Regions from separate parts of the Homo sapiens genome. Here regions 1 and 3 are each linked to region 2. The links come from fine-mapping of genetic effects on gene expression. A gene starts in region 2. Each other region holds a variant in brackets. All regions are shown on one strand. Distances are from middle to middle.

What was found. PIP is the estimated chance that this variant, and not a neighbour inherited with it, causes the effect. A credible set is the group of variants that fine-mapping cannot tell apart.
Region 1: its variant is the best candidate, but not a certain one, in a credible set for the expression of IKBKB in blood mononuclear cells (TOPMed, PIP 0.50).
Region 3: its variant is the best candidate, but not a certain one, in a credible set for the expression of IKBKB in whole blood (TOPMed, PIP 0.78).

The regions. Positions count from the first base shown.
Region 1 is chr8:42,400,263-42,403,067 of GRCh38, forward strand. VDAC3 (voltage dependent anion channel 3) reads left to right here. Exons shown (of 10, transcript NM_005662.7): 7 at 1,526-1,753. Among named protein-coding and RNA genes, the nearest start is that of VDAC3, 9.8 kb to the left of the region's middle. RefSeq lists a silencer at 919-1,138. The variant A/G (reference allele first, on the strand shown) is at 1,417.
Region 2 is chr8:42,269,773-42,272,577 of GRCh38, forward strand. It overlaps IKBKB (inhibitor of nuclear factor kappa B kinase subunit beta), which reads left to right and starts at 1,530. Exons shown (of 22, transcript NM_001556.3): 1 at 1,530-1,697; 2 at 2,311-2,433. The coding sequence starts at 2,329. IKBKB-DT (IKBKB divergent transcript) reads right to left here and starts at 1,478. Exons shown (of 4, transcript NR_185843.2): 1 at 879-1,478. RefSeq lists an enhancer at 525-1,024 and a silencer at 1,521-1,810.
Region 3 is chr8:42,319,211-42,321,851 of GRCh38, forward strand. It overlaps IKBKB (inhibitor of nuclear factor kappa B kinase subunit beta), which reads left to right. Exons shown (of 22, transcript NM_001556.3): 14 at 60-211; 15 at 375-436; 16 at 1,525-1,634. Among named protein-coding and RNA genes, the nearest start is that of POLB, 18 kb to the right of the region's middle. The variant C/T (reference allele first, on the strand shown) is at 1,373.

The DNA.
Region 1 (2,805 bases), 130 kb after region 2:
AGGAGGCGGAGCTTGCAGTGAGCCGAGATGCACTCCAGCCTGGGCAACAGAGCGAGACTCTGTCTCAAAAAAAAAAAAAAAAGTTAATTCCTTTTTTTTCCCCCTCACCCTCTCTTATGGTGCTGAAAAGTTAATTTCTTAAGAAGGTGATCTGGCTCTCAGATGCTATAATGATTAGTTCTGCTGCCTACTTGATTTCTTAGCCTCTGTAAATCCCCCAACTTCTTGACCTCAATTTCCTCGTGAAAAAAAGGGGGATTGTGTCATTTCCTATCTGCCTAATGTGGGTCCATGCTATCTGAAGGACGGAGGTTGCTAGATGAATGCAAAGTGACATTTGTCTCAGCCGTAACAACAGGTGTGTTCTTTTTGCCACACACTTCAGTTATCTTTAGGACAAATATTCTTTTCTTTTTTTTTTTTTTTTTTTTTTTTGAGATGGAGTCTTGCTGGAGTATAGTGGCACTATCTCAGCTCACTGCAAACTCTGCCTCCTGGGTTCAAGCAATTCTCCTGCCTCAGCCTCCCAAATAGCTGGGACTACAGGCATGCACCACCACGCCCAGCTAATTTTTGTATTTTTAGTAGAGACGGAGTTTTACCACGTTGGGCAGGATGGTCTCTGTCTTGACCTCGTGTTCCGCCTGGCTCGGCCTCCCAAAATGCTGGGCTTACAGGCATGAGCCACTGTGCCCGGCCAGGACAAATATTCCTACAAGAGGCTTGATTGGAATAGGGTTATTAAGAACTAATTTCATTTTTTCAGTATTGTCCTTCAAAAAAGCATGCTTCTCTCCATGATAGGTTAATAATGTATATTGGGGATTAATTCTTTGTGGCATTTGGCATTTGGAAACATTTAAAGAGATTTGGCTTCTTGTACGTCTGTATACATACACCTTCAGATTATTAATTTGGCACTGAAATATCTTATTCATTCTTTTTTTTTCTTTTGAGACGAGTCTCGCTCTGTCGCCAGGCTGGAGTACAGTGGCATGATCTTGGCTCACTGCAACCTCTGCCTCCCAGGTTCAAGTGATTCTCCTGCCTCAGCCTCCCAAGTAGCTGGGACTACAGGCGTGTGCCACCACGCCCAGCTAATTTTTGTATTTTTAGTAGAAACGGGGTTTCACCATGTTGGCCAGGATGGTCTCAATCTCCTGGCCTCGTCATCCGCCCACCTTGGCCTCCCAAAGTGCTGGGATTACAGGTGTGAGCCACCACACCCAGCCTCTTATTCATTCTTATACTTTTGTTCATGCTTTTATGAAATAAATCATGAAGTATCCTATCATTTGAACTTATAATGAGTAATAGATGATAGTAGTCTATACATGTCTAATCCTAACAAAATTATATTTGTAGAACTAGGTCATTTGAAATGTTTTTACTATATATGTGGCATGTACCAAAATA[A/G]TATTTACATTGGGAGATGAGAGAGAGGATCTTACTCTAAAAATTCCTAGACAGTAGTAAGAACTCATGTTGTTTTCATCATTTGCTTTTGTTTGTTTGTTTATTGCAGAAAGAAGAGTGGGAAATTGAAGGCCTCCTATAAACGGGATTGTTTTAGTGTTGGCAGTAATGTTGATATAGATTTTTCTGGACCAACCATCTATGGCTGGGCTGTGTTGGCCTTCGAAGGGTGGCTTGCTGGCTATCAGATGAGTTTTGACACAGCCAAATCCAAACTGTCACAGAATAATTTCGCCCTGGGTTACAAGGCTGCGGACTTCCAGCTGCACACACATGTGTGAGTGTTTATAATTTATTCCTTAGTATCAGTGCAGTTGCCCAAAATATTGTAGCCATTAGCATGCTGAGAAGTGATGGTACTCAGATTTAGCATGCCTTGGTGAATATCCATCCTTGCGGTGCTATCCTCATAGCAAAACCTTGCCAGGAGGCTGGTGCACGTGGTGTGCAGGCTGTGCTGCTGGTGGTCACTGGCCCCTCAGCCTGCACCCCAAACTTGAGGAAGCTCCAGCCTCTGTAGAAGAACCACTGGGATAGAGGGAGCCCAGAGCATGGCTTACCTCATGGTAAGATGACCCTTTGGAGATGTTACTGCTTCCTCTGCTGCCCTCTCATCTTGACAGTATCTGGAAGCAGGTCTGTTTTGGTCACCAACAACCACCACCAAATTGATCTGAGCATCCTGGGACATCCCGGTAATTCTGTGGAGGTTTCAGGTACTGGTATTCTCGGTTGGAACCCAGGTACCGCTAATGCATTCAGAAGTAACAGGTGCTCTGAAAGAGTCCTGGGATTCAGTTATGTAGGCTGCACCATGTTGGTGGGATGAATCAGAACTTTTACGTAGTATTTTATGTTGAGCCTACTGGACACTGCTACTATACCAGGAAGAAAAAGCAAAGGGCAAACTATGTGTTTTTAAACTGTTGCAGATTCCTCTCTGCTAGATGCTCTAATTTACTTATGATGGCTAAAACAAAGGCAAGCAGTGGTATAGACAGTTACTGAAATTGATGAAACAGTATTATCAGGAAAACCATGTGAAAACCCAAGGACTCACCTCTGGCATGCTTGGAAGCAATAACTAAGGTGGTTTTCTGGAGCAGTGCACCCTAGGTATCGTAGGAGGGTGCTTTCTAACTGTAGGATTGTGTTTTAAAGGAAATCCAGAATTGGTTTTATTCCTATACCTCTACCTTTTTATTTTTTTGCAGAATCTTTATTGAACTCTACTTTGAAGTTTCTAAGTTCTATGAACTTCTCAGAGACCTATAGATTATACTTACCCGAGGTGTCTGCCTTTGTGCTTAATTGAATTGTCTTAAGAAA
Region 2 (2,805 bases):
CCCAGGGCTGTCAGGCACTGCTGCTATCAATACCTCATTTGTCCCTCACAACAACTCTGGGGTGGCCTCCTTTCTATGACTTTCTATGAGCCCGCCTGTCCCCCTGCTATTACAATGAAGCAGATGAAACTGCTGATCTTTGTTACTGATGTTTTGGCTGTTTTCAATTTCCAAAAAATGACAATTAAATGCAATTCAACCTAATATTGCCTAAATTTTAAAAGAGGAAATAGGTTCTCACAGTGTTTAAGTAACCAGCCCCCGTGCCTCAGAGGTAGTCAACAGCAGTATCTGGATTCAAAATCCAGTTTGCCTCCTTCTGAACTTCTTAACATGCTACTTTTAGCCACGGATTAAGAACCCGGGAACCAGTTGCTAGGGTTTGAGTATCAGCTCATCTACGTAGCAGCCATGTACCTTGGAAATAATAATAATGCAGACCAGGTGCAGTGGCTCACAGCCTGTAATCTCAACACTTTGGGAAGCCCAGGCGGGTGGATCCCTTGAGCCCAGGAGTTGGAGACCAGCCTGGGCAACACAGTGAGTGAGACCCCGCCACCAGGTATGGCGGCCGCGCACCTGTAGTCAGGAGAATCACTTGAGCCCAGGAGTTGGAGGTTGCACTGAGCTGTGATCACACCACTGCACTCCAGCCTGGGTGACAGAGCGAGATAATAATAATAATGATGATGATGATGCAGTATTTTCCAATTTACAGGGTTGCCCTGAGGATTGAATAAGGAAATCTAAGTACAGAGATTTAGAACAGAGCCCTGCACTGTGTAAGCACTCTATAGATGTGAGCTATTATTATCATCTTCAGGTTCCTTTGGTAGTTTTTTTCTGCTTGAATAAAATATAGCAACACACACACACACCTCCTTTGTCCACTAATGTAATCCCATAAAACGGAGAAACTCAGCAGTGAGGACATTCTGATTCCAAGCAGGAAGGAGATGAACGATGAACCTCAGGCTGAGCGCCTCACGGTTTCCTCATGTCACCGGGGCTGGGGGTGCAGTTTGGCTTCACACTGCTAGGTCTTTTCTTGTTTTTAAGGGGGCAGGGGCTGTCACCTCTGAGGAGTCAGCTGTGATTGATCCTTCTCCACACCCAGCCAAGCACCCCCCAGACAGGGGAGCGCCCGCAGTAGGGCGGTAGGCAAGGGCAGTTCTAGCCAACAGTCCCTAAATCATCCCAGCGGGGGCGCGGGAAATTCCACCGAGGTGAAAGCCTAGGGGGCCGGGTGAAGAAATCCCCATACCCGGGCCCAGAAACCGCTCCAGGTGGAAGTAACTTGTCTAAAGAGAACAGGGTGTAACGGGGGTCATTTCAGGGCTGTTCTTTTAAATCGGTGAGCACGGTCTGTCTACTTTCCCTCAGTTGTCTAGAGACCACACGCCACCCCCGCCCCGGGGGAGTCGCCCGGTCGAGGGTCCCGGGACAGGCGCAGCACTCGCAGCATCCGGACCTGGTCTGCCTCGCGCCGGGAGCGGCCTCTTTAAGAGCGGCCGCGGCCAACGTGCTCCGTGACGTCAGAGCAGGAAGTGTTTGAGGAAGTCGCGCCGCGCTGCCCGCGTTAAGATTCCCGCATTTTAATGTTTTCAGGGGGGTGTCATAGCCCCGGGTTTGGCCGCCCCAGCCCCGCCTTCCCCGCCCCGGGGAGCCCGCCCCCTGCCCCGCGTCCCTGCCGACAGGTGAGTCCCCCTCGTGGGTGCGGCCCGGGTGCCACCTGCAGGCCCCGCCGCCCCGCTGCCTGCAAGGCCCGGAAGACCCCTCTGTGCCGCTGGGAAGTCGCAGCTTGCGGACTGGGGAGCGTTTCACTTGTGCGGGTTGGAGTTCGGGAAGCCGGGAGAAACAGCTCTCCCTGGGGTGGCTTCTTGGGGGTGGGTGGCTTTGAGGGGAACCTGCGATTTATGGGAACATTGTAAAGAAACACGTGACCTCGGCGATGCTCAGAAGTAGGTTCTGCCCCTGCCACCTCGGGCAGAAGGCGGGCAGGCCCGGGCGCCCCTGGTGGAGTCAGCTGGGGATCCCCTCGCTAGGGCAAGGGCGTGGGCATCGCCTCCCTCGGTGACTTTCTTCCTTGCCTGATGCCACAGCAACCGGATGGGGGAGGGTGAGAGGGACAAAAGTTTGCCACAAAGTTTGGACCAACCAAACACATTGGTTTCTTTACAAAATAAAAAACCAGTTGTATTTTTCTTCTCTCCCATTCAAGAGCAGTGGTATCTCTTGCCTTCTCCATCCCTTTGAGCTCCATTTTTTTCTTAATCCTAACCTTTTTTCCCCATCCCAAATTGCTTATAGAGTTAGCACGACATCAGTATGAGCTGGTCACCTTCCCTGACAACGCAGACATGTGGGGCCTGGGAAATGAAAGAGCGCCTTGGGACAGGGGGATTTGGAAATGTCATCCGATGGCACAATCAGGTAGGCCCTCTGTGCAGCTTGGGGAGGGGCGGGGAGCCAGGCCCCCTCCTCACTGCCTCCACTTTCTCTGATCCTGCTGGGCCAAGGGCTCACCTTTGGCTTTGGTCATCTTGGGACAGTGAATAGGGGGACTGGGAAGAGGGCTTCAGGACTTCTGAGCTGACTCCAGGTTAGTGGTCTCCATGCTTTATTGACTATGTCACCTAAATAAATAGTAAAATAAAGTTAAGCTCTTAGTCTCTATTATATATATATGGTAACAGTAGAATATCATGTACTAATATATACTGATATTATATGTTATAAAACATATAGAAATAGGAAAATTTAAAGGATGAGACTAAATAAATAATTTAAAATATTTTAATTCCT
Region 3 (2,641 bases), 49 kb after region 2:
CAGGAAATGGAATTTGGATCCCAGAGATGCTCCAAGACTGTTCCTTGTGGTCCCTGCAGGATGAATCTCCTCCGAAACAACAGCTGCCTCTCCAAAATGAAGAATTCCATGGCTTCCATGTCTCAGCAGCTCAAGGCCAAGTTGGATTTCTTCAAAACCAGCATCCAGATTGACCTGGAGAAGTACAGCGAGCAAACCGAGTTTGGGATCAGTGAGTGTGCACTTTGCAATGAGTTTAAAGACACCATTTTTTTTTCTTTTTCTCTTTCTAAGGTTTCTTTTGTCCTATTATAATTGAGTTGCTTATTTCTGTTTCAGTTTTGTGGTGTTTTTATTTTGTTTTGTTTTGTTTTTCCTTCTCAATTTTTTTTCAGCATCAGATAAACTGCTGCTGGCCTGGAGGGAAATGGAGCAGGCTGTGGAGCTCTGTGGGCGGGTAGGAGACTCATTTTGGGTTTCGGAACTTACCAAGGGGGTGAGATTTTGTGCTCCCACTTTTCACTTTCTCATCAAACACTGGGTCGATCTCTGTCAAAAATCAGGTGTTCCTCACCATGCTTTGAGCTTAACTGGACCAGCTGAAAAGAGGCCAAGAGAGTAGCCAGTGAAGGGAGCCCCTCTGTGGCCAGATGCAAGAGCTGCATGAATGGACAGAGATGGTCCAGGTTTAAATAAGAAGCAAGGGTTAGGTTCCCTTGGGGAAAAGCCAAGACCATTTCCTGTTAGGAAGGGCATTGGATGGATGATCAACACTCCCTCTTGTCGAAGGTTTTTGACTAATTTTGTTGGGATGCTAAATCCATAGGAAATAAAAGGTCTAGGCAGAAAGTCTCAGGGCAGCGTAAATCAGATGTCACCAAAAAAAGTTAATTATGAAGGCAAAGGAAATACATGTGACTTAATGAACCTCACACAAACTGAAGGTTGAAGTCAGGCTCCGGGGCTTTTTCCTGGACTTATCCTCTGTTTTCCCCTGTGTACTTGGGCAAGGATCTTCACCTGTGTCTTAGTATCGATTTTTATGAATCAGTACTGATGGAGTATATGTGTGTTTAATGGTGAATATTAACCATAGAAGGGCTGAGTGCTCCTCCCCATCTTGGGACTCATAATCTGTGAAATAAAACAGTCTGGGCCTCCCTGCCCGGGTAGCATCAGGATAGACAGATGAAGAGAAGAGAAAGTAATGTGTCTTGGGCATCTTCTGTATGCCAGGCACCATGCCAGAGGCTTTAAGTACTTCATCTTACTTGACTCCTCAGATGGCCCTGTTAGAAGCCTATTTTATGCAAAAGGAAACTGTAGCTGGGGGTAAGTAACTTGCCAAGGGGTCACACAGCTAGAAAGCGGTGGACCCTAGATGCAGGCGCAG[C/T]CATTCAGACCCCACAGTCCACATTCCTTTGAGCCAGTCCATTGAGGGTCCTCAGGGAATGTGGCGGGTCCCCTGGTCTCGCTCCCCCGCAGATCTTGCATCTCAGCATGCGCCTACCACATCAGTTGACATTAGCACAGCTTTTCCATTAGGAGAACGAAGTGAAACTCCTGGTAGAACGGATGATGGCTCTGCAGACCGACATTGTGGACTTACAGAGGAGCCCCATGGGCCGGAAGCAGGGGGGAACGCTGGACGACCTGTGAGTACTGGCTGGGGGGCCCCTCTGTGCCCAGCACACACAGACAGCCCTGGAGCTTCGGTGTGTGTGTCAAGGGCACCCTCAGTGGCTGTGCGGGACCATTCTCTAGAGCATGCTTCCCTGTGGGGTCACTTCCAGCAAATCATCACTGAGCTTCAGTTTCCAAATCTGTTCAGTGACAAGAAAAACAGTCTTAAGTCACGAAGTTGTAAGGATGAATTCAGATAATGCATTTGAGACGCAGGCCATAATCTGTAAAGGCTGTAAAATGCAAGCAGCCTCTACCCCTGTAGCAGACTCCCCTGATTTGTTCCACCCACCCTGACTCAGGCATAGCTCAGAGCAGAAAGTAAAACAGAGAAGGAAGAACCTGATGAGGCTTAGGAGTTTGGACCTGGAAACTATTCGTTTGAGTCTTTGTCAGGTATTTGGCATTGGCTCCATGAGGGGCGGAGGGGTCTAGGCAGATCACTCCTACCTGAAGGAGATCACATGTGCTCCTGGCGTACAGATGGAGGGAACCAGGCAGGCCGCTTGAGGGCTGTGTCACCGTGAGCTCAGCAGTGTTCCCTGATTCTCTCACTAGGATTCTTAGGACAGGAGCTCCAAATGTCAGAACTTTGATTCTGTATTTTCTCTAATTAACCCTTTATTCTCCTCTAGTTCTTTTATTTGTATTTGTATTATTTTTTTAAGAGACAGGGTCTTGCCCTGTTGCCAATGCTGGAGTGCAGTGGCACAATCATAGCTCACTGCAGCCTCGACCTCCCAGGCTTATGCAGTCCTCCCATCTCAGCCTCCCAAGTAACCGGGACTACAGGCGCATGCCACCATGCTCAGCTAATTTAAAAAAAAAATGTTTTTGGCTGGGCACAGTGGATCACATCTGTAATCCCAGCACCTTGGGATGCCAAGGCAAGAAGATTGCTTGTGAGCCCAGAAGTTCGAGACCAGCCTGGGCAACATGGTGAAACTCTACCTCTACCAAAAAAATGTAAAAATTAGCC